Regions from separate parts of the Homo sapiens genome. Here all the other regions are linked to region 3. The links come from fine-mapping of genetic effects on plasma protein levels. A gene starts in region 3. Each other region holds a variant in brackets. All regions are shown on one strand. Distances are between the middles of the regions.

Region 1 (10,229 bases), 55 kb after region 3:
TCAAAGATATGGCGATGTTCTGTCAGCGGGACCAGCCGAGCTTCTGGCTGGGCCAGGAGACAGAGTCGTCAAGGCCAAGAGGGGACTCAGAATGAAATGGGAATAGACCCAGAGCACCAGTCCCTGCTTGTCAGGCACCCAGGTTTGCTGGATTCTTCTGTCTTGTTCAAGCAGAGACATAGGTGCCTAAACCATCTTTCCAGCTGAATATAGTTCTTGAACATCACTCACTTCACCAACAACAAATTACCTGGATATTGTTTATGCTAGTTAATGAATTTTGGGGAGCAGATTTAAATAACTATATTTGAAGCCTTTGCTAGCCACTTCTAGGGTGTGAGTTACTTTAAGTGTTAACTCATCAACCCTAGAGCATACATTACAATTAGCTCACACATAGAGACACTATCTCTTCTGTTCATACAATGGAGCTTTAAAGTAAGTCACAGACATTACACTAACCTGGGGTGTAACCCTTGGTGCTATTGACATTTTGAGCCAGAGAATTCTTTGTTGGGGTGGGGGGCAATCTGAGCATTGCAGCCTTTAGCAATAAAAACCAATACTTGGCATTTATCCAATAGGTAATAGTAGCATATCCCCCCCTCCGCCACCAAGTTGTGATGACCAAAAGGCCACCATACCTTGCCAACTGTCCCCTGGGGACAAAATCTCTCCAGGTTGAGAACCATTGAACTAGAGTGACCATATTTATTGTCCACTCTGGGACACTTTCTTCTTAAACTTACATATCAGAAAATGTTAACTAAACACAAACATAGGGAGACTAGTATCATCAACACACCACCACCTCATGTATCCACCACTAAAACTCCATAATTGTCAACTCAACCAATTTTATTTCGTCTCTACTCCCACTCACATTCGGCCACCACTTCCCCTTGCTAGATTGGTTTGAAGCAAATTCTAGACAATATTCATCTATAAATATCTAAGCGTATGTCTTCATTTTTTAGATTTTTTAGTTGGCACATAGTAATTGTACATGTTTATGGGGTACATAGTGATGTTGAGAGGCATATAATGTGTACTGATCAAATCAGGGTAATTGACATATTCATCTCTCAAACATTCATCATAAAATATGGAATGCTTCACAAATTTGCATGTGATCCTTTGTGCAGGGGCCATGCTAATCTCTGTATCATTCCAATTTTAGTATATGTGCTGCCAGAGTGAGCACTAGATCGATTGATCTATCTATCAATCAATCTATCTATCTTTAAAAGATAAGAACTGTTTTTTGTTTTTTTTTTTTAGATGAGGTCTCACTATGTTGCCCAGGCTGGAGTGCAGTGGCTCCACTGAAAGGAGTGAAGCCTGAATTCCACTGCACTCCAGCCTGGGCAACACAGTGAGAGCAGTGGGATCCAGCCTGGGCAATGTACCCAGAGCAGGCGCAATCCCACTACTGATTGGCACAAGAGTTCTGACCGGCTCCGTTTCCAACCTGGGTTGGTTCCCCCTTTTTAGGCAAACTGGTGGTCCCCTGCTCCCAAGAGGTCGCCATATTGATGCCAAACTTAGTGTGTACACCCAATTGGCATAACGCGCTACAGCCCAGAATTCCTGGGGCCAAGTGATCCTCCTGCCTCAGCCTCCAGAGTAGCTGAGAATACAGGCATGCACTATCATGCCCGACAGAACTCTTTTTTTGTTTGTTTGTTTTTTGAGACAGTCTCGCTCTGTCCCCCCAGGCTGGAGTGCAGTAGCATGATTTAGGCTCACTGCAACCTCTGCCTCCTGGATTCAAGCAATTCTTGTGCCTCAGCCTCCCGAGTAGCTGGGATTACAGGCATGTGCCACCTTGCCTGGCTAATTTTTGTATTTTTTAGTGGAGACGGGGTTTTGCCATGTTGGCCAGGCTGGTCTCGAACTCCTGGCCCCATGTGATCCACACGCCTTGGCCTCCCAAAGTGCCGGGATTACAGGCATAAGCCATCGTGCCTGGCCCAGAATTCTTTTTTTTTTTAAATGTAACTATAATATTATTATACTTTAAAAATTAAAAATAATTCTTTAATATCATAAAATATCCAGTAGGTAAAACCAGGATACTCTTGAGAGTGTAATGGGCAATCAGTTTACTAGGAAAAGCAGGCATAAGTTGGAACTGTCCAGGCAAACCAGGACTGTGCCAGGCATATGGAGCATGTGTTTTCCTTAAATATAACCCTTTCTAATGCATGTGTCTGAAAAGTCATTCCCCTGCTCAAAGCCTCTAAAGGCTCCCAGCACCTAAATACAAAGTCTCGACTCCGCCCAAGTCTCAAGGCCCTCTGTGGTGTGCCCACCACTTGCTCCTGTCTTCTCCTCCAATATCCTCCTGATGTGGTTCCAGCTGGTAGCTGCATCACCCAAGGAATCTGGTGACTGCCACCACTCTCTGATGCTCAGAGATGTTGCTGCATGGGGCATGGCCCTGTGCAAGCTGGAGGCACTGGTGGGCAACCTGGATATGGCTTTTTTGTTCATTTGGATTTTAGCTGTCCCTCTAAGTTACCTGAATTTGAATGTTGGCAGAAGTAGGATGTTAGGGTTTGCCATGAAAACAGTTCTGGGCTAGAAGTGGCTCAACCTGGCCTGATTTCTTTTTGCAGGGGAAAGGGGTCTCTTCCTTCTTACCTTTCTTTTTTGAAACATGTATCCGGGGCGTACTTTGCTCTTGAGAGACTAAAACTGCTAATTCCCAAATGCGGAGGGCACCTGTCTATTCTCAGCCATGCCCAGGGCAGGGCACAGAGCTGGGGCTCCACCATGGTGTGCAGAGAGAGCTGCTGGGAGTGTGGGTGCCATCATCCCTGCACAGACAGACGACAGACACACAGAGCTCGGCCTGTTAGATGAGTGTCAGCTCCACTGCTTCCCCAGGGGCTTCTTGGAGCCCAGGGCTCCCGCTAAGGATCAACTGCCTTCTGTGCCTGGAAGAAGCAGAATTTCTTTCCTCTTTATAATCTGAGCTCCACAGTCAGGTTTGCTCAGTGACTCCTGTCTCTAAGTCCCTGCAAAGCTCCTGAAGGTTGAATTTGGGGACTTCTGGCCGAGTACAGCTGAAGAATGAAAGAAAGCCATTCTGCTTGACATGAAGCTAACAAATAACTAGAAAACTTTTCCAGGCCCTGCAAGGATATAATCCTTGGAGCTGTCTCAGCCTGCATGCCCGGGGCCAACTGGCCATGCAGTTCCTGGTCATCAACCACCAGGATGCCTGCCAGACAGACCTCACCCGCCTGCTGTCAGAACCCCTTTACTCCCTGCATTAGCCAGGCCGCCATCCATCCACTCAGCAGAGAGGTCTCGTTTGCCTGGGTCCCCACCCAGCCCATAACAATGCCCAGTACCTGGTGCAGCTTCGTGGTGGCCTGCTGCTTGCCCTGTCCTATGGTGGGTGCTCGTTAGGGCCCTGGGGATCCTTTCCTGCTAGCACACCTTCATTCATTTGCTTATTGAGGATCTACCATGTGTGCCGGGCACAGGAGTAGGTGCTGGGACACATTAACACCAACAACAATTCCTGCTGCATCACGGGGCTTCCGTCCCAGCAGATCGAGCACCCAGGGCAACCATGATGAATTTTCATACAGGAGTTGGCTTCTCCTCTCTTCCCAGAAGCCCTGGGATCCTTTTGCAAATTCTTCTCCTCTTCCCAAGGGACCTGGTTTGCAGAGTAAGGGGCCTTCACAGAGGCCTGCCCAGGTCAGGCCACAAAAGGTTGCATTGCAACCTCACCCTGGGCAATGTTCCCAGTCCCTCCACCTACAGAATAGATCTGTCAAGTGGCTGTTCTCTGAGGAAAGGAGATGGGGTTCAAGATAATTTGCTATTTCCACTGGAGTGCAGTGTATGTCATGCGTGTGTGTTGTGCGTATGGCAGTGGGGATTTAGGCTTCTATGAGCAATATGGTGAATTCTGTGAGGATTTTTATGTGGCATCCAAGAGGATTCTATGAAGCTTCTACATGGATTTCATTAAGATCACATAAGGATTTTATCTTCATCCACAAGAAGTAGGCATGGGTTCTATAAAGATTCTAAGAGGTCTTACTTAGTGTGTGAGCAGCTGAAGCCTTGAAGTGTGGGTGGATGAGCCAGTGCTTTGCTTTCAGTTGCACCCGCCCAGCCAGAAGTGAGCTCTCGCCCCCACTTCTCTTCCCCTATAACCTGAGAGCATTTCTTGTCTGCTGGGCTCTTCTTTTGCCCTCTACAGAACCAATTTAATGAAATGAATAAAAAAAGGAATAAAAGGAAAAGGGCAAACAGCACATGGGGCCCTTGGCAGAGGACAGCCTCCGACATGAAAGACTCCGAGGCACATCAAAGATGCCGAGAGACAAACACACAGCGCCCGCCCCTGCCTGCACCATCACTGTGACTTTCCAAGCCCCAGCAGCTCCCCAGAGCCCTCCTTTTCTGAGGCTTAGGGATGCGGGTAAGTGGGCCACGGCCCTGGCAGCCTGAGAAGGTTCAGCTGCTCCCACTTCTGCTGGCTCCTGGGCAACTCTCTGCAGGTCCCCACAGGCCCCATTCTCCACCCCGGGTGGTGGAGGACAGCCACACACAAGCAGCCGGAAAGAAATCAGAGCGTGCTCAGGCCTGGGGCTGGGGTTGGAGGGGAGAAGAGGGAGGGCCCAGACCTGGGAGTGGGCAGGGCTCCTGTGAGTTGGAACCTCAAGACCTTCCTCCTCCAAGAAACACTTCTCGGCAGCTGGCTCCATTCCGGCGGGCGAAATTGTTGTTTTTCATTTTATCTGACTTTCCTCTAGGGCCAGTGCTGTCCGGCAGATTTTTCTGCATTGATGAAAATGTTCTTTATCTGCACTATCTGACACAATAGCCTTTAACCAAAGGTGGCTATTGAGCGCTTGAAATGTGGCTATTATGACTAAGGAACTGAATTTTACATTGTACTTAATTTTAATGAATTTAAATATAAATTATCAAATGCGGCTAGTAGCACCTGTGTTAGACAGTGCGGCCTGTGAACAGGGCTCTTGTTTGATTCGTTGGTGCCCTCCTCTCTAAAACTGCAGCACCCCCAAGAGGGTCTGGCCCAGGCTGGGCTCAGCAGGCTTCAGGCTTTCTGTCTTGCGGGACTTCCTCACAGCTCACACCTGTCTGCAGTGGTGGTTTTTGTTAGTTGGTCCCCACTGGGCACAGGTCACCAGGGCTGAGGGTATGCCTAGGTCTGAGGGTGACTGAGGAGATCCAGGCTCTAGCCTGAGCATAGCCCCATGCTTTGTGTGTGACCCTGGGCAGGTCTGCCCCTCTGCAGTGAGGGAACAATGCTTGACTATGCCTGAGGTTTAATGACACCCCCCGACCATCCCCCCTCAATCTGCCCCAGTGGCCTGGGATCAGGGAAGTAAAG[C/T]CCACAGGCATTCTGGGTCAGCGTCCTTGTTTCTCCTCTTCTCCCATCAGGCCCTCCAATGGAGATCATTATCCAAATGATAATGATTAACACTTGGCTTTGGGGTCAGACTAGCTTTAAATCTCAGCCCCACTGCTTACTGCCTGTGGAGCTCCAGTACCTTTGGCTGTGTAGAGTGGGGGTTACATTTGGTGTCAGAGGTCCTGGGTTTGAGTCAGCGGTGTGCTAGAGACAACTTGTACACACTCATGAGAACAGCTTGTCCTATTTTCGAGGGATTTTCTGAGCCAATTGATAAACACAATTGTTTAATAAAACAATTAAATTATATGAAATTGTTAAATGCCTCTATGTCATCTACTACATGTGTGGTTCTCGAGGGCAAGGATAAGGTGGGAATTATCTATGACAGTCACGCCAGGGACTTTTCCAAACTCTCTTCCTCCTGCAGTTCCGATGCACCTGTTCCTCCTTCGGGTGTGAGCAGAAGGAAAAGAGGGCAGGGACCACTATGCCACCCCTCGCTGTGTCAAATGCAGAGACTAACAGGCCCCACGAGGCCTCTTGTTCTGTTGTGTGGCTGCCCTGGGTACCTGTCCAGCTGCCCCTGGGGCTGTGAGAAGGCTGGGAGCTGCTGTAGGGAAGTCTGGATTCTGGGTCTCTCCATCCAGAACCCTGGAGTCCGCCCATGTCAGGAGCAGGAAGGAAACACTTGTTTTCCTGCACATGGTATGTATGGTGCAATGATAAAGCCAGGAGGTGCTGGCTGACACAGCACAGCATGGGACTTCCACAGCAAGTCCCCAGGGCACTGCCCACGGCAAGCCCTTCTCCAAACCCGAGGCTGAGTCGCGCCGCGCACTGGCTGCCCTAAGTGTGGTGGCTGCGCCAGGGGCAGGCTGAGCTCACAATTGGTTAGCCCAGCCTTATATTTTTGGTTATACTGTTCTGCTCCCCCACACACATACAGACCCAAGATTTAATGCACGTGCATTTTTTTTTCTGGGAAAATTGTCTATGGATTTCATCAGATGCTCCGAGGGACTCTGATCCCTTTATCATTGCACTAAATGGTGACTAGAAGGAGGCCTTGGCCTTGGAGCTGGGAGATGTGGCTTAGAATTCTCATCAGTTCTAAATTGCTGCATGAACTCGACAAGCCACTTTATTTTTTGCTCTCTAAAATAAGGCAACAACCTTGTCTTAAGTGGTGATTTAAAAACAGGCTCACAATCGTGTTCACATATCCTTTGACACGCTTCCCATGAAAAGATGGAATTCAATTGTCCTTCCTTCAGTATGGGCCAAGTTTGATGAGACACTGCTGATTAATAGAGGCGGAAATGGTGCTGCATGACTCTAGGGTCTAGGTTAGAAAAGGGAATGCAGCTTCGGCCTGGCTTGCTCTTGCTCAGGACGCACACCCCATGAGGCCTGAGCCCACATAAGAGGTCCAGCTACCCTGACACCGCCATGCTGGAGGGAGGCGTGGCTGCAAGGAGATAGACAGAGGAGTGTGAGGCACCCCAGCTGTGCCTGCCCCCTGCCATCGGGTCTTCCCACCCCAGGCGCAGGCATGTGAGTGAATGAGCAGCTTCGGATGATAATAGCCTCCAGCCTCCAAGCTGCCCCAGCTGAAGCCAAGTGGAGCAGCAACAACTGCCCGCCCAGCCCTGCCCACTTTGCATATTCATGAGCAAAATAAATACTGCTGTTTTTGTTTTAAACTCCTAAGTGTCGGGGTGGTTTGTTACGCAGTGTTAGGTAATATCTGGGCACCCTGCCTACCCTCAAGGGAAGCTGTAAGCATCACTTGATGTAATACCTTTCACATGCCAGGTACTCGGCAACACTGAATGTATGGGACCTGCAAATCGACCAGGTGATGGGGTAACTGGGACCTGATGGGACTTCTGCTTAGCCATCTAAGTTGCTAGGAGCTTTCTGGAGAAGAGGGTTATTTGCCCCAGCCCAGTGGGTCCACAGGTTTCCTGGAGAGGGCGTGTGTCCCTGGACAAGAACCAGTCCCTGTGGGGGAAGACCAGATAGGGAGGTGTTCTTTTTCCTGTTGGCTATTGGTCATGACAGGCGTCCCAGGAAGAGGTGGGGAGCGTGAGGAGGAACTGGGAGCAGTGGGCCGAGGCTGGGCTGGGATAGCAGTGGTCCCAGTCCCAGCAGGCCCTGCAGCCTGGCCTCTCTTCAGACCGCAGCCTCGCTCTGTGCATTCTGTTATCCTCGCGCAATCACCCCGACTATTTACTGCTCTCACTCCCTCACAGTCCAGGCACTCCTCCAGGGAAGGGGCTGTATTCAGCACAGTTTGAAGCCCCAGAACTTAACACACAGCCTATAGGGAGTTAGGTGTCCAATAAATGTGTGTTGAAAGTCAAACTCAGTGCATCTCGCCGAGTCGCTAATGCCCTGGACCAAGGGCGGGCTGGCTGGGAGGCGAAGTGGCCCCATCGAAAGTGACTCTGCAGGCGTCAGAGGGACCAGTGTGGGAGCCCTTCTCCCTGTGGGGAGTGGAGGCCTAGAGGGCAGTGCTGTCGACTCAGGCTGAGTTTGGGGGTGGTCCCTGTTTTGGTTTGTACCCCATATGCCATGGCCAAATCCCTGTAGCAATAACTTGCCCAGTGCTGCCGGTCCTGTGGGATGAGGGTCCCACTCCCGGGGCCCTGCTCCTCAGGGCCAGATCCCTGCCCACCAACCGGGCGAGGCTCCGATCCCCTGCCCCATCACAGCTGACTGGCTGAGGCCCCTCCCTGGCTGGTCCTACAGCGCTGACTGCACGTTCTACCCACTCATGACTTCTCCCACAAGGAAGTTTGCCCAGGTGCAGAACTCAGAGCCACATGAAGAGGCTGCAGAAGAAAAGGACGACTCGTCTGGGGCTCTTAGACCCTCAGGAAGCAACCCAAGCTGCCCTGTGCCCACACTCCAGCCTGAATTTCCTATCAGACACAGAGCTTTACAGCAGGAAGACCTGCCCGCCAGAGCCTCGGGGCCCGGCCGCTCCATCTGCCTGCCCTTGGCCTGGATGTCTGCCCGAGCAGATGCAATTTAACTTGCTGCAGGAGGAATATCTATAAAAAGTTAACTATCATCATAAAAGCAGCCTGTCCACCCAGGGCTGGGCTGCTGGAGGGAGGCCCAGCAGCTGGGTCAGTCCCCACTTTGGAGACCATGACTCTAACATCCAGACGTCTCTTCCGTGCCCCCCACTCATCTCAAAAAGATGTCTTGGCCCCTGATGTCAGAGCTCCCCGATGGGAAGCAGGGTGGCCTCGTGCTGCGTGTCACAGCCATCCCTCAGAACTGTCCATGCCATGCAGGGAGGACCCTGAAGCCCCGTGCTCTGGAGAAAGGACCACATCATGGGGCGGCAGGTGTGGCCCAGCGCCCTGCAGCAGAGGTGCAGGCTGAGCTGCCTGAATGGGGCTTCTCTCTGGGGCCTTTGAGTACGAGAGAAAACATGAGAGCAAGGAGGGTGGTGTTCCACAGGTGTGTGGACCGGCGGACAGCTATCTCAGGCCTTTGTTCAAGGGGGTATTAGGGGAAATGGCTCCCACGGAGGAGGCTTTGTTAGTTCGCCCCAGTCCAGCACTGCCTGACCCCCGAGTTGCTAGAATTGCCACTAAGCTTTTAGGGAGGGGAGGTTCCAGGGGTGGCATTCTTGGCTGGGGAGGGTTTATCTCTCAGCCAAATGCTGGTCACAGCTGCGGTGGCCCTGAAGCACCCTCCGTCCTGTGCAGTGCTCAGGGCACCCCCACCCTACCCACCAAGATGGGAAAGGTAAAGATGGCAAGGTGAGCTGTGGCTGGCTCGTGGAGCTCACTGTGCCCATCTTCCGGTATTTGGAGGGCTTTTTTTCTTTCTTCCCACACTGCCCACATCCCCTTTTCTGGGCCTGGCCAACCCCTACATCCTTGGCACACAGCGATGGCCATGGATGAGCACTGGACTCCAGGTGAAGAGAGAGAGACTCAGCTTCATTCCACGCTGGCCTTGTACTGACAGGGGCTGGCTTGGCGATGTGATGGACACATTCCTGGGATATCTTCTGTCTGTAAAATCTGAAGTCAGACTCCCTCGTTCTCTGGGCACAGTCAGAGAGAGGATGGATAGGACATAACAGCCAAGGCAGGGCCTGAAGAAGAGGAGCAGAAGGCCTGAGTGGCCATGCCTGGATACAGAGGGAGGCCTGAGGGGAAGGCTTGCTCCCCATCTCAAGAATGGGTCCCTGTGGGGACATCTGGGGACAAGGGGGTGAGAGGAGCCACAGGGGACCTCCTTCTACCGAGGCTTCCAATGGGCTGGGAGACATGACCACTGTCTGTGGTTACTTCAGGGCTCTCTGTATGTGACTGGAGGACGGAGAGGAAGGTGTGCAGTGGTAGTAACGCTGGCCAGGTGTGGTGGCGCATGCCTGTAGTCCCAGTTGCTTGTGAGGCTGAGATGGAGCATTGCTTGAGCCTAGGAGTATGGGGCTGTAATGAGTTATGATTACACCACTGCATCCAGCCTGGGTGACAAAGCAAGACTCTGTCTCAAAAAAAAATTGTAACACCATTAAGAGCAGATATGGGAGCTAGACTTCCTTGTACACACACACACACACACACACACACACACACACACACACGTTGGAATGCTCAGAAGCTCTGAGCAGGACAGGCAGTAATTATTACACACCTATTGTATCTCCATGAGGCCACTGAGGAAGGAGAGGTCTCTCTGCTGTAGAGGGATTTCAGTTTATCCAGGAAGGACACACACACACACACCAGACACCCAGGCTAGAAGGCAGTGCATGAGTAAGCATTAGGCAGTGGCTGTGTCA
Region 2 (10,229 bases), 38 kb after region 3:
CATACAGATTCCCCGGGAAGGGAAACAGGGGCGTATAGGGCCTGAGTGCACAGGGTCAGGAGGTGTGAGGAGGGCCTTCTGGGTCCAGCTCGCTGCTCCGTGCAGAGCACATAGATTTACAGGGAGTGCTTCACAGATATCCACTAGGTGAAATACTTTTCTTTTCTTTTCTTTCTTTTTTTTTTTCGTGAGACACAGTTTTGCTCTCGTTGCCCAGGCTGGAGTGCAATGGCGCAATCTCGGCTCACTGCAACCTCCGCCTCCTGGGTTCCAGCAATTCTCCTGCCTCAGCCTCCCGAGTAGTAGCTGGGATTACAGGCATGCACCACCATGCCCAGCTAATTTTTTTGTATTTTTAGTAGAGATGGGGTTTTACCATGTTGGCTAGGCTGGTCTCAAACTCCTGATCTTAGGTGATGCGCCTGCCTCGGCCTCCCGAAGTGCTGGGATTACAGGTGTGAGCCACTGCGCCCGGTCTGAAATATTTTAATAATTCAAATTTATGTTACAGCCAAAATGAGTGGAAAAAAGGGGGCATGTAATGTTAAAAAGAAAATGTAATTTTTTCCTTTCTTAAAAAAAAAAAAACTAAGGTATATTTTACACACAGTAAAATTTGCCCTTATTGTTATACAGTCTTTTTTCAAATGCATGCAATTGTATAACCACCACTACAGTTAGGATCTGGAACAGTTTACTCATCCCCAAAACTTCCCTGCACCCTTTGTAGTCAACTCCTTCCCCACCCCTGGCTCCTGGCAGCCACTCATTGGTTTTCTGTCCCTGTAAGTGTTGCCTTTTCCAGATGTCCTATGAGTGGAATCATACAGTAGGAAGCCTTTTGAGTCTGGCTTCTTTCGTTTAGGAGACTGCATCTGAGCTCCATCCAAGCTGTGTGCTTCAGGAGTGTGTTCCTTTTCATTGCTGAGTAGTGTTCCGTGGTGTGGAAATGATGACTTTGTAACCACTCAAAACTAGAAAAATGCAAGTGCTCTTCAACTGTGAGCATTTCCTTATCTCTAGATTCATAAATCGAAACACTTCCTTTGTCCACCTATGAATCTTGATTTAGAATCCAGAAAGCATGGTCTGTTTGCCTGAGGCTGCGAAGTAACCTTGGAGAACCTGCAGAGGTGAACAGGCCCAGGGCCAGAGGGCAGGAGGACACTAGCTCCAGGGACCTTGGGCTGACTGTCTGGCCTTTTCTTGGGCAGGCCTAGCCCCAGTCCACATGGTGCCTCTGCAAATCCCCATTCGGGTGGGGTGCAGCTCAGTTAGCAGACAGCACCTCTGGCCAGTAGGAGAAAGTCACCCTGTCCCCCAGGCCTGTGAGCCTTGCACCTGGACAGCAGGATTTCAGCCCCCAGCTTGCTCCTTGACCTCAGCAAAGCCTGCACAGCCACGTGGACAGTTTAGGTCTGGACTAGATTTAAGGCTGAAAAGTCCTGAGACCTGCAGACCCAGGAGGCAGCAGATGGGCTGGCTGCCCTCAGAGCCTCAGGGCAAGCCTGCTGGGGTTCCCCTGGGCTGCCTCAGAGCCCCCTGTGGGCAATCTGGACCTCAGAAAGACCTTTCCGGCGCAGCATCTTTCTTCTTTAAATTAGAGACAGGGTCTATGTTGCCCAGGCTGGCCTCAAACTCCTGGCCTCAAGCAATCATCCTGACTTAGCCTCCCAAATAGCCTCCCAAATAGGGATTACAGGCGAGAGGCCCTGAGCCCAGTCCAGGGCAGCATCTTCGATCCCAAATCTGCAGAGCCCTTTCGAGGACAGAGCCTGGGCCATCAGCTGGGATACCTTCTCTAAGGGCGAACAGCTTCCCTCTGTGGGGCTTTTAACCCCCGTGTTAGCCCTTAAAGGGAAAGTGGGCATTGGGGAGCAGGAGACATGGTCCCCCTTCAGAACTCATGGGGGAGGTGGGAGGGCATGGTGGTCCAGAGAAAAACTCTGTAGCCAGATGTCTGGGCTCAAAATCCTGGTCCTGCCATTTTCCAGCCTCGTGACTAGTGCACAGGGTGTCTGTTGCAAGCCTGGGTGAGGTATGACATGGCCGCACATGGGCTACTGCCACCTCTCAGCACCTGATAGATGTTGTTGTTGGACCAGTGACAGGGCCACAGACTGAGACGGTGTGGAGCCCCAGGGTGACATCCGTTAACCAGGGCTGCCTCCTTCTGATCCTCAGCTTCCCCTCACCCATCAGATGTGGCCCCAGATGAGATGACTTCTCGTACTTCCCAGGATTCTGCCAGGCCAGGGTGACCAGGTCTGGTGAGAACCAGGCCGGGGGGCCTCAAGGATGCAGACTCCAGCCCCATCCTCCTGATAGGTGCTCCCTGCAGCCTGACGGCCAAGGAAGAGGGTCCACACTGGGCCCCTGGGTCCCCAGTGCAGGAGCAGCCTGGCCTCCCCTCTGGGTCCAGCCCAGCTACTTCTGAGGGTGGAAAATATCCCGTGGCACGAGGGCTGGGCTGAGTTCCAGCTCATGGCTGCCCGGACAGAGTCCACAGAAGAAGAAAGACTTTTACCAACTCTTTTTCTCTATGTGTTGCTCCAGGGACCTTGGGCTGACTGTCTGGCCTTATTCTCAAGGCTATATAACATTTTTATTTATTTTTCTCTTTGTAAATGAGGCTGTTTTGCCCTATCAGATGTGCTACCACTTGAACTCATTAGAAAAGACTGGTCGCTTGATGTGAAAGGTAAGGCCTTTCAGGCCTAAGAATCCAGACACACAGCAGGGCTTCTCGCAGGGGGAACTTAAGCATGCTTTGTGCATGAAATGGGGCACAATCCCTGCCCGCCAGGGGGAGCTTAGCTGTCCCTCAGATGTGCCTCTCCAGTACAGTGCCACACAAGGCTGACCAGCCAGGGCCGGCCCCTCCCCAGAGAGCGCTCACACCCACAGTGCTCAGGGGTCTTCACCATCCTTCCCTCATCGTATTCTCACACAAACTCGAGCTGTGTGGTGCTGCAGGAGTTATTCTGTTTCACAGGCGAGGAAACAGGTCTGGAGAGGATAAGGGTTTGCTCAAGGCGGCAGGCCTGGATCTTCGGGACTAGCTGGATATGATTTTGTGGCCCCTGGTGGAGACTGAAGTGGAGACAGCTTGAGGGGGCTGGCCTTGCTACTCACACACTATGCGTCCGAGCCTGACAGGCAGCCCTTCTTCCCAGCCCTGTCTGTTCAACTCCCTCCTTGCCTGCACCCCAGACAAGGGGAATTTCTCCCAGGAGCCAGAGGCCAGGCCGGGAGCCCAGAGCTGGCGCTCAGCAGTCTCTGCCCGCCCTGGCTGAGGGACTGCGTGAAACTGTTGCATCTCCTTACCCCTCCATTTCCTTATAGGGAAAGCAGGAGGGCCGGTGCCCACCTTCAGGCACAGATGAGACTTGGAAAGAGATTTAAGAAAACGCAGCGTGCCACTAAATGTCAGGCACCAAGATTCTGGTTAATTATGAATAAGGACTACCATTTCCAATATGCCTAGAATGTGCCAGGCTCTATCCATGCCTACCCTCCGATTTCAGGGACACAGAGTAATATAGTGGCAGGAGCAGGGGCTTTGGGGTTAGACCCCACTTTACTGGCTGTGTGACCATAAACTCCTTAGAACCTCAGCTCTGTCATCTGTGAAATGAACTCATCTCCTAGGGGCATTAAATAAAGTAATGGGAGTAAACTCTTCAGCATTTTGGTTTGGGCACTTTGCAAGCATTGCATGAATAGTGGCTATGACTCTGATGGTCGCAAAATCCCTGACAGGCTGGAATCCCCACCCTCTTTTCGCAAATGAGGAAATTGAGATCCAAACTGATTCTTCATGCAGCTCCTGAGTGGCCAAGCAGACGTGCAGACCCAGGTCTGTGCCGCTCCTGTGCCACGGTTGCTTCCTGTTCATCCATTCTGTCCCAGAGGACACCTGGACAGGCGTGGGAGAGGCTCTTCCAGGCTGGAGCTGCCCCAGCAAGCCCCGAAGCGGTTCCCAGGCATGGGAAAGGGTGGCCTCCCTGACACGCCTGGGTGCTGGCACCACAGTTACTAATGATGTATCCTGCAGGGAACCATGGTCATGAGAAGACAAACAACCAGGGGACAGATGGCAGCTCATTTCTACCCAGCCCCAGGCAGCTCCGTGTCCCTATGAGCCAGTGGGCAGGTGGGGGGATGTCACTTGGAATATGTCAGATCCAGAAGTTGGGGAGCAATTCCCTTCTCCCATGGTGGGAGGAGCATGGGCAGTGCCCTCTGTCTCCCAGGAAGCTGGCTACATAGGCGGCGCTGGCCTTTGCTGGGGAAGCCCAAGAGAATAGCTCCAGCCCTCCGAAGTGGCTCTTCCCTTGGAGCCCTGTGCCCTGAGCACGTCCCTACGTGCGTCTCACTCCTTCAACACAGTTACTGAGGCCTCCTCTGGGTCAGGGCCTGGGGACCCAGAGATATCAGGAGCACAGCCCTGGCCTTTGAAGAGCCCACGGTTTTGTGGCAAGGACACACATGCATTATTAAACAATACAGATGTCCAAGGGCAGTGCTGTAGAAACAGATGAAGGACACCCCATCCAGCTTGAGGACTTAGAGAAGACTGCCTGGAGGAGGAGGCATGTGAATGAGGTCTTGTCAAACGAGCTGGCCCGGCAAAAGAGGAGGAGAGAAGTGTTCTTGGAAAGTGCCAGGTGCACCCAGGGACCCACAAGATCCCCCCACCCCAGTGTGCAGTATCTGTATTGGGGGTGGAAAAGCAGTGAGAAGTGAGGCTGGAGGGACAACTGGAGCCAGTAAAGGAGGGCTGGTTTTCTAGGTCAGGGGCACAGGGTTGTGGCTGATGGTGAGGGAGCCGGCTCTACTGGCTTTTGAGAGCTGACTGTGCTCATGAGTTCAGTGACCTCACAAGGTAGTTTGAAATTGGCCATGATGGAAATATTTGTACCATGGACATTGGCAAGTGCCACAAATCAGAGCCAGTTGTTAAAAAAAAAAAAAAAAGGAAGGAGGCAGCCTGGGTGGATTCTAAAGTAAGGGCATGGGATAATTAGCTTTGTTCCTTAGAAGGATGTCCTGACTGTTGCAGTATAAAGAACAGGTGGAGGGGAATGGGCTTGGAGACGAGCTGGGCCCTAGGTGACCTC[C/G]TGGAGACGGCCAGAGGCTGCCCAAGAAGGGTCTGGGTAGTGGGAGAGGATAGGCCCCTGCCTCCCACTGTGTAACCTGACTCCCACTGTGTCGGGCTCAGCCTGGGGGTGGGGCAGAGGATTAGGTGGCTCTTTCAGCCTTCCTCAGCTAGAGCCTGAGAATCCCAGTAAAACCCTTAATGAAAAACACCTGGGGCTCTGCCCCCGAGCCAGGCCTAGAGATGGGGATGGGAAGGGGATTAGGGGATCGGAAGTGAGGGTGGAGAGGGACTCCACTCCATCCATTCATTTGTTCATTCATGAACTCTTGTTTCACCCAGCTCCCTGCGCCTGGCCCTGGGAGAAGGCGGAGCGGAAAAAAGAGGGGCTAAGGAAGCCATAGAAGCACCGCACAGGGGCCATAGGGATCCCTGAGCCACGGCGCCTGCCTCATGTACTGATGCTTACTCTATGGAACCTTCCAGGCCAGGTCACAGTGCATCAGAGTCACGACTAGGCTAGGTCCTCGGTCTCCCACGTCTTCCCCGCAGAATCGTGTGTGTGTGTGTGTGTGTGTGTACGTGTGCATGTGCAAGTACATACACACATACAGGATTGTAGTGAGGGGGGTGTTGATTATAAGAATACAGGAAGGGTGGAGGCTGAGATCCACCCACTGGAGTGGTGGAACTCAGCCTTCATCCTTCCTGCCCAAGACATATTGCAGATGGAGCATGTGAGATCCCAAAAAAGAGACTTGGTGGATTCACAGCCCACTGGGGCTTGGCCTGGTCCGGGCTGGCCTCCGGGCCAGAAATGACCTGTGGGCCTTTGAAGCCTGGAGAGTTGGGGTGGCTGTGGGAGGGGGCTGGGCTCCAGGACCTCTGCCCCACCCTTCCCTGGAGGGAGGCACTGAAGAGGCAGGACCTGCCTCATCCAGGCAGCATTGCTCTCTGGCTTCTCAAGATGGCTCAGGGCTGGCCTGGAGGTAGTCATGGGGCTCCTGGGCACTGTGCTGTCTGGCAGCGGACTCAGGTTCCTGGCTGGAAGTGCTAGTGGTCACCAAACAATTGGGTTGGGATTTAGAAAAAGGATGTTCTGTTCTGGGGAGAAGCTTATTTGTGAACTCAGTTCCCACCTGTTGTGCACCTTCCGAGCCCTCCTCCCCACCCAAATTCTCCCCAGGCACAGTCAAAGGGCAGGCAGGGGCACAGGGAGCACCTCTGTGCATGTTAGACACAGCGCTCCCTTGGGGAAGATCCCCTCTGGACAGGCACCTGGCTTGGTGAGTGGGCATGGCTTTTACTGAAATTAGAAAAGAGGACACTGCTTCAAGCAGACACCGCATAGGTGCAGTGGCCAATCTGCACAGACACACCTGTACCCTCGAGCTCGTCCTCTAGTGGCTGGCGGGGAGGGCTCCATTTGTACAAACACAACTATTGCTTCCACACCCTGTCTGCCCTTCCTCCACCCATGGGCCGCTCCATTCCCCATCCTTCAGGTAATGGACATCTCTTAAAGGGATGTGAGGGACTGGGGCCTGGGGTGAGTGTGCTATGAAAGCAGAAATATTCACACTTCAAGGGCTACGGGAGGTGTGGCCCCCTGCTGACAGCAGCTTTCAGCAGGGGAAGCTCCCACAGGCCTTCTGGGCACCATGTGGGGAGGGAGGCCGGGTATCTGCAGATGAAAGGCACAGGACCGGCTGCAGCCCCAGGAGGCAGCCCAGGAGGCAGCCTAGCCAGCCTTCCCAGGGCTTCCCTCCAGGGCCAGGTGGTCCCAGCCTGTCTGCTCCCCTCACTGTGTCTGTGGTGTATCTACAGATGCTCCAGGGTGGAGGAACTAGCCTTGCCAGCCAGGCTGTGAGACACAACCACCTTCATTTCAGCCCTTGAAAGTGGAACAGCCTTCCCAGCACCCTGGCTCCTTCTAGGGCAAGCCCTCTGGAGAAGGAGTGCAGAGCTGCAGGCCAGCAGGCCCAGGGTCCCGCCTGGTATCTTGGGTGCTTTCCTTCCCTCCTGGGGCCTCAGATCTCCTCATCTGGAAATCAAGTTCAGAAAGGTGCAAAATGTACTGGTAAGAGGCAGAGCCGGTACTTGAACCCAGGACTGCCTGACTTCAAAGCTTCATCACAGCATCACAGGTTCTTCTAGGAGCCAGGGCAGACAGATGCTAACGAGGACTCATCCTCATGGGATCCTTCAGGATGTGGCTGAGCCCGCAGCTGCTTCATGTACATGGACTTCAAGAGGTCACAAAACTGTGAGCATTCTTAGGGTTTCTGAGGGCCACCCCCTTGAAGTTGAGGTTCAGAGAAGGGGAGTCTCTTGCCAGCCGTGGGGAGCCCAGACTCACTTGCTCCCAGCCAGTGCTCTTTCTGCTGTGCGGAGTGGCTTTCTCGAGCCCATCTAGGTTAGATGCCGCAAATGTATAGTGAGTGGGGGCCTTCCCCATGGGAGGAGAATGTCCTCTTGGGGAAGCAGAAACAGGGACGCCTCTGGCTCCAAGGCCGCAGCGATCACATGATATCTGCAGTGATCACCTGATATCTGCAATGAGTCTGTCACCCCTCCCTCTGCCCCTAGTTACTGACTCACAGAACAGTCGTTAGTTCCTCAAAGGGACAGGAGCAGCAGCCGATGACTGGCAGAGAAGTTACTGGGAGTTACTGGGAGCTCTCCGGTGGGTCAGTCACTAAGACCAGGCCCCAGGTTTGTGCTGGGCTAGAAAGAGCTCAGCAACAGTGACCTACACAAAGGTGGTCTGTGAAACCGAGGGCAGGGGTGAGCCCTCGGGCAGGAATTCAGGGGCCTCTGGCCTTGTCAGCTCCCTGAGGCCAGGGGGGATGGGGAGTGGGAGCCAGGGTGGAGGAACCATGGACTGGCCTGAGGAAGCAGTCCTGCCTGGAGACCCTGCTGAGGGCCAACATTGTACAGCCCCGGCTCCCTCCAGGGACCCTGCCCTTGGAGATCACAGCATCCTGCCGGGAAGTCACATATCAGACCTCTGGGGCTTGGCTACCTGTGAGCCAGCAGGGAACACTTGGTCAGGTGTCAGGGAGAGGCTTTCTGGCTGGCCTGGAATGGTGGGTGGGATTTTCCCATGGGAAAAGCCTGGAGAACAAAAAAAATAGGAAAACCAGGTGAGGCGGGGAGGTGAGTTGGTGGAAGGGTGGGAGCTGAGGCCTGGAGCCTGCCTCTGTGGGAGAAGGGAGGCTGTGGGCAGATGCTGGTTCCTCATTTCCCTGTTCCCCTGCAGCACCCGCAGAGATGGCTAAAGCAGGCCACCCTCAAAGGGCACAGTGTGCTCTCATGAGTCAGGGGCCAGGCTGGGGAGCACCCTCTGAGCCCCGCTTCCCAGTCGGCCTTCCAACCATTCCCTCCCAGCTTGAGGCCACTTCCTGCAAGAGTTAGTCAGCTCTGCTCACATGCCCGGGCTGGGGGTGCTCAGACCGCACAGTGAGACAGCTGTCTTGGGCCCCCTGGACGCTTCCTTTGTGCTGCCCAGGAGAGAGCCTGCCCTCTTACCCGCCACCCCACCCCACAGCTCCAAGTCTGTGGCACAGCCTCCTGGGAAAGGAAGTCCTCGGGCCACTCAGCCGCTCCGCCAGCCACCTGGAGGAGCCCCGGAGATGAACTGTGGGCTTCTCCTCACTGTCTCCTCCTCCTCAACCCTGCAGTTCTGGCCTTTGCTTTTCCCAGTTACTTCCTCAGCAGCTGCGCTTTGATTCCAAGACCATCAGCACGCACAGGAAGGGCTTCCAGGAAGAGGCAGGCCCTGAGCTGGTTCCTAAAGTGCCAAGAGGACCTGTCTAGGACTCCAGAAACTTCCAGGAGTCAGGGAACCTGGGGCAGAGACAGTCCTGAACGCTGTGAATGGGGCAGCTCGGCCTCTCCTTCCCCGCCCTCCAGTCTGACCCTCAGATTCTCTTCAGGCACAGCTGGAAGTGGGATGAGGACGACAGCAGGGGGAAGAAGGCAAGACTAGGTCGAGGAATTCTGTCTGTGGGACAAAGAAGTTTATCTGCCTGGTGGGGTCTCTGGGTGCAGCGAGCTACCTGTGAACATGCTAGGGGGATTTAGAACCCAGTGGGAATGACACTGACAGGCAGGGAACAGAGAGAAGATCGGGCCATTCTTTCCTCATTGCCTCCGCCATCCTGAACACATGGGCATTCCTGGCTCTCATACCAGCCACGTGCCCCCTCTCGGCTTTTCCCTGGAGCCCCTGGTGATTTTAGGATGTTTTCTCCCCATGCTGGGCTGCTGTGGGGGACGTAGGGGGAGGCAGCCCTGGGGGCCCAGTGCATACAGCTGGGGGTTACGCCAAATGCACTGAACAGAGGGACACTGGAGACGGGACTCATGACAGGCCCTCCCCCACCCTGCCAGTGAGACCGATGACTTCCTGAAAAGGGGTTACATGGAGGGTTGGCAACATGGAACATTTGATGTGACCCGAGAACTTCCTGTTCAAATGACGCCTGGGGCTCTTGACCTACTCCCGAAAGTGTCATGTGCACAGTCGGAATGAGCCCTAGGAAGCGGGACTTCTCCAAGCAGAGCTGCTTGCAGGCTGTGCCCACCTTGGGCACCGGGATCCAGGCTCTCCTACTCCAGAGGGCTCTTCTGAGTTGCTGCCGCAGAACCTGCTTGGTGGCCTGTGGCTCACGACGTCAAAGGAGGAGGCATCGGGAAGTGGATGTTCCCAGCAAGAGGGTCTTCTGATGTCCCCCACCCTCCTCAAAGCACCAGGGAAATTGGATCTTAAAAAGGGCCTTGGGAACCCAGTGCTGAGCCCTTCAAGGTAAGTAAGGTCAATGACAGCCATGGCCCGAGGTGAAGCCAGAGAGTGTTTGCTTTCCTGGGAGAAGGCAAACTGAGCAGTGACTCAATTGAGAAATATGCCATCGAGTGCTTGTTTCTGAAACAACAATGTAATCAGAAGTCAGTCCAACTAGGAATGAGCAGTGAGGCCTGAGGAGTTAAGCCCCCACCCTCTGCCACCTGTGGTCCCGCCCCAGCACCAGGGCCCACCTCCGAGGAAAGCATAGATCTGACCTCCTGCCCCCTGAAAGCCCCAAGGAATGGATGGCTAAAGGAAGATCTAAGCCCAGTGCCTCCC
Region 3 (9,919 bases):
TTGCTCAGGGTGACTGGGCCTAGCTGCACCTGGGAGGGTGTGGCTGGTGTTGGCACTCCTCCCTGCTGGAGAGCTTCCTGTCCAAGCTTCCAACAAAGGCAACAAAGGCTCATCCTTGAGGCAGCCTAGAACTGAGTCACGAGCCCCGGGGTGATCTACCAAAGGACTTCAGCACCCAGTGCTGCCCCAGCCTAGGCAGCCACTTTACACACTGATTCGGCCCCTCTGACGCTAGCTGTTTACGTAAACCAGGTGGAAATGGACCCTCACCAAGGATTTTCCACATTGCACTGTTCCTCTCCTTCATCCTTCTCCAAGCCTCATCGCATCCCACCTCCTCCATATTATTCAATCCTGGCTCCCCACATTGTACCTTCACGGCCCCTGCATAGGGTGTCCCAGCCCACAGTCTCCCTCCCTGCAGCCTGCCCTTCGCACAGTGGCCAGAGGATCTTTTCAAAATGCAAACCACTGGCTCCTCCAGCCTAGGCACGGCCCGTTACTGGCACACACTGCTCAGGCTCTCTCCCTCTGATCCAGCCCTTGCCAGAGGTCCTGTGCCCCGGCCAGTCCAGCCCACCTCAGACTCCTTCCAGTTCCTGAACATCCTGAAGCTCTGTCTTGCTTCTTTGCCTGCTCTTTGCTGGGTTTCCTGTTTGGAATGTCCTTTCCCTGCTCTATCTGCCTGCGGTAGGCTGAATAATTACCCTTAAAAGATATCTATATCCCAGCCCCTGGAGCCTGTGAATGTTAACTTATAGAACAACAACCAATACAAGGTGGTGGTGGTGGGTCTTTGCAGATGTGCAGATGTGATTAAGAATTTTGAGATAGGGGCGATTATTGGGAATTATTCCAGTGGGCCTTGCATGCAGTCCTGTATTCTTACAAGAGACAGCCAGAGGGAGATTTCACTATACACAGAGAAGAAGGCAATGTGAAGATGGAGCAGAGAGAGCTTTGAAGCTGCCAGCTTTGATGACTGGAGTGATGGGACCACAAGCCAATGAATACCAGCAGCCACCAGAGGCTGAAAGGGGCAAGAGATGGATTCTCCCTAGAGCCTTGAGAGGGAGCACCAACCTGCCCACACCTTGATTTCAGCCCAGTGAAACTGATTTTGGACTTCTGACTTCCAGAACCGTAAAAGAATGAGTGTTTATTTATTTATTTATTTATTTAGAGATAGGGTCTTGCTTTGTTGCCCAGGCTGGAGTGCAGTGGCATGATCTTGGCTCACTGCGGCCTTAACCTCCCAGGCTCAAGCAATCCTTTCACCTTAGCCTCCCAAGTAGCTGGGACTACAGGCGCGTGCCACCACACCCAGCTAATTTTTTTGTTTTGTTTTTTTTGCAGAGGTGAGGGCTCACTATATTGCCCAGGCTGGTCTCAAACTCCTGAGCTCAAGAAATCCACCCACCTTGGCATCCCAAAGTGCTGGGATTACAGGTATGAGCCACCTCACCCAGCCTAAGTGGGTGCTATTTTAAGCCACCAAATTTGTAGAAATTTATTACAGCAGCCACAGGAATCAAATACACTGCCCAAATCCTGTTTCTTGATCCACGGACAGGTTCTAATGGCTTCCCACCCACCCTCAACCTTCCTCATCATTGAAACCTTTGGGAACTTTATCCCTGCGTCCGGAATCCATCATTTCCTTACTGCTGCTGATGAACAGGTTAGTATTGCACGCACTTCTTTGTTTTATAATGATTGTTTAGTTCAGTTTTTCCCCAAAGACTGAACTCACAGAAAATGAAAACCTTATGTTTTCACTTTGGTATCTCCGGCACTCAGCCCTGGGCCTGGCTCCCAGTAGGGTCTCTGCAGCATAGCACTGCCGCATTGCACAACTCCACAGGCACCATTCACACCCGATGCTATGGACTGTGAATCTCTAGAGCACGATTCCACAGGACCCACCCTCCCTCCCTTCCTTCCCTCTCTTTTTCTCTTTGTCTTTCTTCCTTCCCTCCTTCTTCCTTTTTTCTTTCTTTTTTTCTTTCTTTTTCTTTCTTTCTCTCTCTATCCCTCCCTCCCTTTTTTTCTTTCTTTTCCTTCTTTTTCTCTCTCTCTCTCCCTCCCTTCTCTTCTTTCTTTTTCTTTCTTTCTTTCTCTGTCTCCCTCCCTTCCTTCTTTTTTCTTTCTTTCCTTCCTTTCCTTCCTTTTTTCTTTCTCTTCCTTTTTCCTTTCTCTCTTTTCCTTCCTTTCTTCCTTCCTTCCCTCGTTCTCTCTTTCCTTCCCTTCCTTCCTTCCTTCCTTTCTTCTTTCTTTCTCTCTCTGTCTCTTTCTCTCTTTCTCTCGAGTGCAGTAGCACAATCTTGGCTAACTGCAACCTCTGTCTCCCAGGTTCAAGGGATTCTTGTGCCTCAGCCTCCCGAGTAGCTGGGATTATGGACATGTGCCACCACACCAGGCTAATTATTGTACTTTTAGTAGAGATGGGGTTTCACCATGTTAGCCAGGCTGGTCTCGAACTCCTGGCCTCAAGTGATCCATCCACTTTGGCTTCCCAAAGTGCTGGGATTATATGCATGAGCCACCGCACCCAGCCAGGATACCATTTTCATGGAAGACACTGAATCATGCTTCCTGGAACTGGGTAATGCTCCATCTCTAGACATATTTATCAAATAAATGAACTATACTCCACTCTCCTCCTCCAAAACAAAAAAGTTATTCCCATAGACAAAGGGTTCCTAGGCCTCCCTAGGATGATGGGCACCATGAGGTGATAAAAGTGGTCCCTTACGGGGATCGCTTTGGGGAAGTAGATACTCTGATTTGGATGTGTAAATTCCAATGATATCTACAAAAGGTGTATTATTCTCTCTCTTTCCTGCTATCAAATATTAGAGGCAACTTAGAAGGCAAGGGAAATTATAAGTTAGAAAGGGACAGTCAGCACAGGGGCAAGGCAGGTTTGAGGTTGAGAGCAGAGAAGCAGGACATAAAGTCCAATCCACTTGCTGCACACTGAATCCCCAGATGATTTGGAGCTGCCAAAGCACGAAAGTGCAGACACACTTGGTTACATATTTCTCAATATCTAAGAATGAACATATGGCCAGGCACAGTGGCTCACGCCTGTAATCCCAGCACTTTTGGAGGCCGAGGTGGGTGGATCTCCTGAGGTCAGGAGTTCGGGACCAGCCTGACCAACATGGTGAAACCCATCTCTACTAAAAATACAGAAGTTAGCCAGGCATCGTGGCGGGTGCCTGTAATCCCAGCTACTTGAGAGGCTGAGGCAGGAGAGTCACTTGAAGCCAGGAGGCGGAGGTTGCAGTGAGCCGAGATCATGCCATTGCTCTCCAGCCTGGGGGACACAGCGAGAGTCCGTCTCAAAAAAAAAAAAAAAAGGATGAACATATTCGTTCCTTAGACGAAACCAAAACTTTCCACTGCTTCTAGGTCTTCATGTCTCACAACAGACCCAAGGACAGCTCCGCAGCCGTGGTGGGTGAGGGGCTTCCTCTGGAGTCCCCCGATGGCACTCAGGGCCATGCCCCTGCACTGGGACCCAGTGAGAGCCAATCCTACGGTGCATTAGAGGAGACATACGCCAGTGTGGCCTTCAGACAGTTCTCTGAAAAACCTCTCCAACATGGCTCCTTCTAGCCTACACCTCTTTTTTGGGCAGGAATTGTCCCCAAACTTAACATACAGTCTGGGGCTGGGAAACTGGCTGGGCTGCCTCCTAGAGGCTCTTTGTAGCAGCATCTTCAAAGCCATTCCTCTCACCGTCCTCCTGAGGCACCTCTTCTTCCTTTTTCCAGTTGTCCTCCCCATACTCTTCTGAGATGATTCACTTAGTCTTATACAGAAGAATGAATTCATCAGTGTATTTTTAGGATTAGAATTGCTGGCAAGTGAGAGAAAATTCAGAGAAACAGTGTCCTAAACAAACAAAAAGAGACATTTTCCCATCATGTATAAGTCTGCGTGGGCAGTCCAGGGATGACGCTATACTCCATGGGGCAGGGACCCATGCTTCCTTTAACTTGTTCCTCTGCTGTGGATGGCCTCTGTTCCCATGTTCACTTCATGGTCCAAGAAGGCTGCTTCAGAGGCAGCCATCAGATCTGTATTCCGCCCAGGAGAAAACAGAAAAGGGAAGGAGAGCATGCTTGACACCTTTCTGAAAGTGCATGTACCACTTCTGCTCATGTGCCACTGGCAAGACCCTAATCATGTGGCTACGCGTGGCTGTAAGAGAGGCAGGGAAAGGTAATCTTTATTTTAAATAGCCATAAGCCCAATTGAAATTTAAGGAATCTCTTACTGAGAAAGAGGAAAACAGATGTGATAAGTAAACAGAAGTGTCTGCCCAACCAGTCGGCAACTAAAGGCTTCAGCAAAACATTTCCTAATGGGAAGGATGGTCAGACTCAAACAGCAATAAGATATAATTTTACTTGCATCAGCTGGCAAAATATAAAAGGCCCAACACCAAGTCATAGGAGGATGTAGAAAAATGGAAATGCTCATAACTGCTGTTGGGAGTGTAAATTACTATAAGCCCTTTGGAGAGCAATTTGCTTAGAGCAATTGCTTACAACAATTCCTGAGAAAGTTGAAGATGTTTATACCTATAATCCAGAGCTCTACTTCTAGAGAAAGCCTCACACATGCACTCAAGAAGACAAGTATAAGGGCCAGGCACGGTGGCTCACGCCTGTAATCCCAGCGCTTTGGGAGGCCGAGACGGGTGTATCACCTGAGGTTGGGAGTTCAAGACCAGCCTGACCAATATGGTGAAACCTTGTCTCTACTAAAAATACAAAATAAATAAATAAATAAAAAATTAGCCGGCCTGTGGTGGCGTGCGACTGTAATCCCAGCTATTTAGGAGGCTGAGGCGGGAGAATTGTTTGAACCCGAGAGGTCGAGGCGATTCTCCCTGCCTCAGCCTCCCGAGTAGCTGGGATTATAGGCACCTGCCACCATATCCGGCTAATTTTTGTATTTTTAGTAGAGATGGGGATTCACCGTGTTAGCCAGGCTGGTCGAGAACTCCTGACCTCAGGTGATCTGCCCGCCTCGGCCTCCCAAAGTGCTGGGGTTACAGGCGTGAGCCATCGCGCTTGGCCGTGAGTGACTTTTAAAAAATGAAAAGACTCCATCAAATCCTCCCTGACCCCAGTTTCCTCTGTTGTGAGCAGTAGAGAAAGGTAAGATTCCAAAATTCCTATTTTTCCACCATACTGGGTTGAAGGGATCTGTGGAGCCACCCTCTGGTAGAGGTAGAACCTTCGAAAAGGGCATTTTTAATCCACAGGGACTCCTCGAGCTCGGCTGGACCTCCGTGGTGCCGTGCTGTGAGACCATCCATCACTCAGGCACTCAGCGAGCCCACATCGGCCCCCAAGAACCCTGATGAAGGTCTTCCTGCCCCCTAGACAGACTTGGGGAGACGGACACCCCAAAAGCGAGAGCTCTTTGAGGTCAAACAGGTGCTCAGGAGCAGGGGTACAAGCAGGCCATCATCTTTTAGTGCTGTGAGGAGGAGTGGGGGGATGAGATGGGGACGCAGGAGGCTGCTCGGCTCCAGAGCCTGCTCCACGGTGGAAGGTGGAGGAGAGTCCAGGGTCCCACGGTCAGTCCCTGCGTGGCCCAGGAAGGTTTAATTCTTTTAAAGAGGAACACTGGACACTTCCCGATATTTTCTTGGTCCCCAGCTCAGGCCGACCCAAGTTCTTGCCTTCCGCCTAGGGAAGACAGGGGAGGACGACGCCATCTTTGGTCTCAGGGCCCAGGTGCGAAGGTCGTTTGGCACCATCTCTCCTGCCTGCCAGATGTGGGCAGGGCCCGTCCGGTTCTTCCCCTTTGCTCTCTCGGCCGTTTCCCCTACACCCGCAGGCCTTCCACAGCTTTTTGAACTGAGGCCCAGGGCCTCGCAGGGGATCTCGAAGGAGCAGCAACTGCACGGTGCTCCTCAGATCCGCGTGCCCGAGGTCACCGGGGAACAAAGAAGTTACTTATTTTTCCTTTTAGCTCAGATGAAGAGAGAGGGCGTTGTCTTCCACAGAAAAACGCTGCGAACTCCGCCCCCGTCCCCCTTTTTCTTGCAGCCCTTCCGTGCGGGTGCAGCTGTTTAAACTAAGGCCCCAAGTCTCCAGCACTTTGTGGAGTGCAGGAAGAACGCGAGCGTACGGGAGAATCTGGGCCGGCGGGGCGCAGCGAGCCGCATCGCAGCTGGAGGACAGCCGGGGTGTGTCTGTGTGTGTTTGCCCGTCGGTTGAAGGCCCCATCGCCCCCGGGTCCCCGCCCTGCCCCAGAAAGCGTTCCCCAAGAGAGCTAGGAGTCCTGCGCACCTGGAGCGCGCTCCGCGTCCACGCCCAGAGGGCGCTGCACACTCGCGCCCGAGGACTGCCTGCCCCCCTTCAGCCCCTCTCCCGGGCTGCGCCTCCGCACTCCGGGCCCGGGCAGAAGGGGGTGCGCCTCGGCCCCACCACCCAGGGAGCAGCCGAGCTGAAAGGCCGGGAACCGCGGCTTGCGGGGACCACAGCTCCCGAAAGCGACGTTCGGCCACCGGAGGAGCGGGAGCCAAGCAGGCAAGAACCTTAGGAGCGGGCCGGGGGTGGGGCGTTCCGAAGGGGCCGGGAGGGGTGGCTGGGGGGCGGGGTCCTGGGGGGTGTGGACTGGGGCTGGCCGGGAGACCTGGCGGAGCTGGGGGTGGGGGGCCAGTTTTTGCAACGGCTAAGGAAGGGCCTGTGGGTTTATTATAAGGCGGAGCTCGGCGGGAGAGGTGCGGGCCGAATCCGAGCCGAGCGGAGAGGAATCCGGCAGTAGAGAGCGGACTCCAGCCGGCGGACCCTGCAGCCCTCGCCTGGGACAGCGGCGCGCTGGGCAGGCGCCCAAGAGAGCATCGAGCAGCGGAACCCGCGAAGCCGGCCCGCAGCCGCGACCCGCGCAGCCTGCCGCTCTCCCGCCGCCGGTCCGGGCAGCATGAGGCGCGCGGCGCTCTGGCTCTGGCTGTGCGCGCTGGCGCTGAGCCTGCAGCCGGCCCTGCCGGTGAGTGCGGCCGGCGGCCAGGCGGGGAGGCGGCGGGAAGCCGGGACTGGTCACCCGCGGATGCCGGCGGGTGCACGTGGAGGGGGAGGGGGAGCGAAGACTTCCCTTCTTCCCGCGCTAGCCCAGCGGGTCCCGGGACGGTGAGCCCCGAGACCAGGGCTCCAGCCCCAATTTCCTCCGCTGTCGGTGGGTGCCGCACCGGTCCCGCGCTGGGGAGGGTGGGGGGCCGGGGCCCCGCGCTCAATTATGTAAAACGTCTCCACATCTGTCGGAGCCCGCCAGCCCACAGCGGCGCCCGGGGTCGCCCGTTCCCACCCTCCTCGCCCCGGCCACCGCGGCGGCCGGGCCCCCGTCGGTGACCCGGGGGGATGCAGTGACCGCGGCCACAACGCCCCCCCTGCAGACCCTAATTCAAACCAGACCCGCGGGCTTGCGCCCCAGCGCCGCCGAGCCCGGGCGCCCCGCCCCTTGCGCCAGGGCAAGTTTGGGCGCAGCGCGGCCGGCGCGGGAGCGGGAGGCGGCCGCGTTGGCCCGGGGAGCCGGGCCAGGGCTGCGTGGGGGGCGCGGGCGAGCGTCTGCAGGGCCCTCGGGCTTGCCGTGGGCGGCTCGAGGTGAGCTGAGCCGGCCCGGCAGCGGGAGGTTCCGGGAAGTTGGCCTCGGAACGCTGGAGACCCGGAGGAGCCCAACTTCTGGGCTGCTGAAGTTGAGCTGGCCCCGGAGGGCGCGTTCCCGTGCCGGGCACGGCCGAGGCGCAGGCGCCTTCCACGCGAGGGGACCCGGGAATGGCCTCCCGCTCCCCGGCTCGGCTTTGTGCTGAAGCCGCGCGGAGGGAAGGCGGGTCCCTTGGCCCGCCCAGTGCAGCTGGGAGAAAAGAGGGGCAGATGTGGAGCTCGGGGCTGTAAGAGGCCTTTGGGTGGGATGCAGCATCCACCTTCAGCGGGGCTGACGCTCCACTAAAGAGGGACGTGGCCGACAAAGAGCAGCCTGAGGGTCCCCAGAAAGTGGCTCTCCCGCCCCGGCCACCGGCCGCTAGCCCGCCTTCCCCAATGGGGGCGCTTTGTTCTCGGCCCCTGTAACCCTTTCCTGGGAACAGCCCCGTAACGCCGGCCTTGACGGGGGCTGGGACCTGGGCCGCAGCCAGGTGTCAGCGCGGGCCGCCCGGTGCCCGAGTCTGCCGCCCGAGTTCGCCTCCCCAGCCCCCGCGCCCGGTGCTGGCGTCCCGGGGTCCCTCCTGCGGGCCGGCTCGGCCATCCCCAGGGATGCAGAGGGGAGGTGCGGAGCCAGGGGCGCTTCCCCTTCCGGAAGTGGCGGTGTCTCGCCACTACATCTGGACAGTTCGACTTCCCCAGCTCTGGCAAAGGGAGGCACGTGGGCAGGGAAGGGGCGGGGGCGGGGTGGGCACTCGGGTTCTCCACTGCTAATGTGGCATCTGGACAAGTCTCAGCAGCGCTGACCCTCCGTAAGCGTTGCCTCGTGTAGTAGCTGCCAGTTATTGAGCGCTTTGGTTTTTTTTTTCTTTACAGAGTCTGTCTCATGGGAGATGAGGTAGGGACAGTCGTTTCTGAGACCGATGTGTAAAGCGCCCTCCCTGCTTCCCAGGTGACTCGTGCTTCCAGACATTTTCCGGTCCAGGAGAGGTCCCTGTGCCTATTGAACTGTGAATGGGCTGGACTGTGAGGGGTATCTGGGAGCACGGGGAGGGCCATGATTTCCGAGCTGGGTCTCATGCACTCCTGGCTTTCAGGTCCAAGAAGCTGCTCTCTAGGGTGGTGGTTTCTGTGGAACTGAGACTGTGCTTGGAGTCTTCGCTCCGAGTTTGGAGAAGAGAATGGAGCTGGGTGCCTTACCTCCCTGGACCGCTGGGCATCACCTCACTGCCCCATTCTCGCACATGATGGGGCCTCAGCAGGGGCGGCTGAAGTTGGGTCCTCCACCTATTTCCGGCTGGATTTAGGAGGGCTGCTGGTTCCCTTGCCTGCCTGGGGTAAAGCAGACATTCCAGAGCCCTGGGATCCCACCGCACCCGTTAATGCTGGGGAGGCAGGTGGAGTTTGGGCTTCCCCGTGAACTGCCTTTCCTGGAGTTTTCTGTGGGCTGGGGCAGATGCTGCAGTGTGAGGCATTATTTCTTGCCCAGAAACTTGGACATAGGGCCCAGGAGGCAGGAGAGTCTCAAAAGGGGAAAGGAGGGAGACTCCCTGGAGCTGCAGGGAGGGAAGGCTTCCTGGAGGAGGTGCTTGAGCTGAGCCTGAAAGCCCCACCTGAGCTTTGGGGTCAGACTCTGGCTTGAAGCTTAGGTGTTCTTTTTGCTTTTTCTGATCTTACAAAGATTAGTTTGTTTTCTCTTTCCCAGTTCTGCCCTCTTCCTCTTACAGTGAATGTCCATGTTAGGTTAAAGGTGGGGGCATGCACTGCCTTCCCAAAGCTCTGATACCCCTTTCCTAAAAGAAATCAGGCAGCTGGGATTTGCTTTAAGATGGGAGAAGGTATTTGCAAGTGGCAGAGATCTGACCCTCTCTGAAAGTTCACTCTGGCCCCAGTGGGAAGCAGGTCAGAAACCCCCTGGGGACCAGGGAAGCAAGGAGTGACTGAATGGGTGAGGGGAGGCTGCTAGGAGAGGAGGTTGCTCAAAACCACTCCCAAGAGACTAAAACAGGTTTGTCTAAAAAGGTTTCTCTCTCTCTTTCTCTCTGTGTGTGTGTGTGTGTGTGTGTTTACTGTGGTCTTTTGTTTCTGCCATGTAAGAAAAATGGCTTGTTCTGGAATAGTTATTTGCTATTTTTCATTCTTTCTCTCTTCTCTTTCTTGAAAGGCATAAAATCCCTTTTGCCCTAATTATGGGGGCTAGTAGAGACATTTTCCCACAGCCTGGCAGAGAGGGTATGGGGGGAGGCACTAGC

Direction of the effects. Positions count from the first base shown, and alleles are read on the strand shown. Strength reflects both the effect of a copy and how common the allele is. Not every link is listed here.
For the plasma level of the protein whose gene starts at base 6,692 in region 3, allele C in region 2 goes with a higher level than allele G (weak association).

Evidence for each region. PIP is the posterior inclusion probability: the model's chance that the variant is causal. The UK Biobank Pharma Proteomics Project read protein levels with antibody pairs (Olink). The fine-mapping took linkage between variants from a reference panel, not from the people measured, so its PIPs are less certain.
Region 1: its variant is fine-mapped to the plasma level of the SDC1 protein (UK Biobank, PIP above 0.99).
Region 2: its variant is fine-mapped to the plasma level of the SDC1 protein (UK Biobank, PIP above 0.99).

The regions. Positions count from the first base shown.
Region 1 is chr2:20,166,780-20,177,008 of GRCh38, reverse strand. It overlaps the pseudogene RN7SL140P and the pseudogene RNU6-961P. Among named protein-coding and RNA genes, the nearest start is that of SDC1, 53 kb to the left of the region's middle. RefSeq lists an enhancer at 5,752-6,601. The variant C/T (reference allele first, on the strand shown) is at 5,390.
Region 2 is chr2:20,184,093-20,194,321 of GRCh38, reverse strand. No RefSeq gene overlaps it. Among named protein-coding and RNA genes, the nearest start is that of SDC1, 36 kb to the left of the region's middle. RefSeq lists an enhancer at 6,295-6,913. The variant C/G (reference allele first, on the strand shown) is at 5,124.
Region 3 is chr2:20,221,903-20,231,821 of GRCh38, reverse strand. It overlaps SDC1 (syndecan 1), which reads left to right and starts at 6,692. Exons shown (of 5, transcript NM_002997.5): 1 at 6,692-7,020. The coding sequence starts at 6,955. RefSeq lists enhancers at 5,365-6,044, 6,045-6,724, 8,484-8,990, 8,991-9,498 and silencers at 6,276-6,655, 6,716-7,135, 7,176-7,235, 7,256-7,715, 8,126-8,325.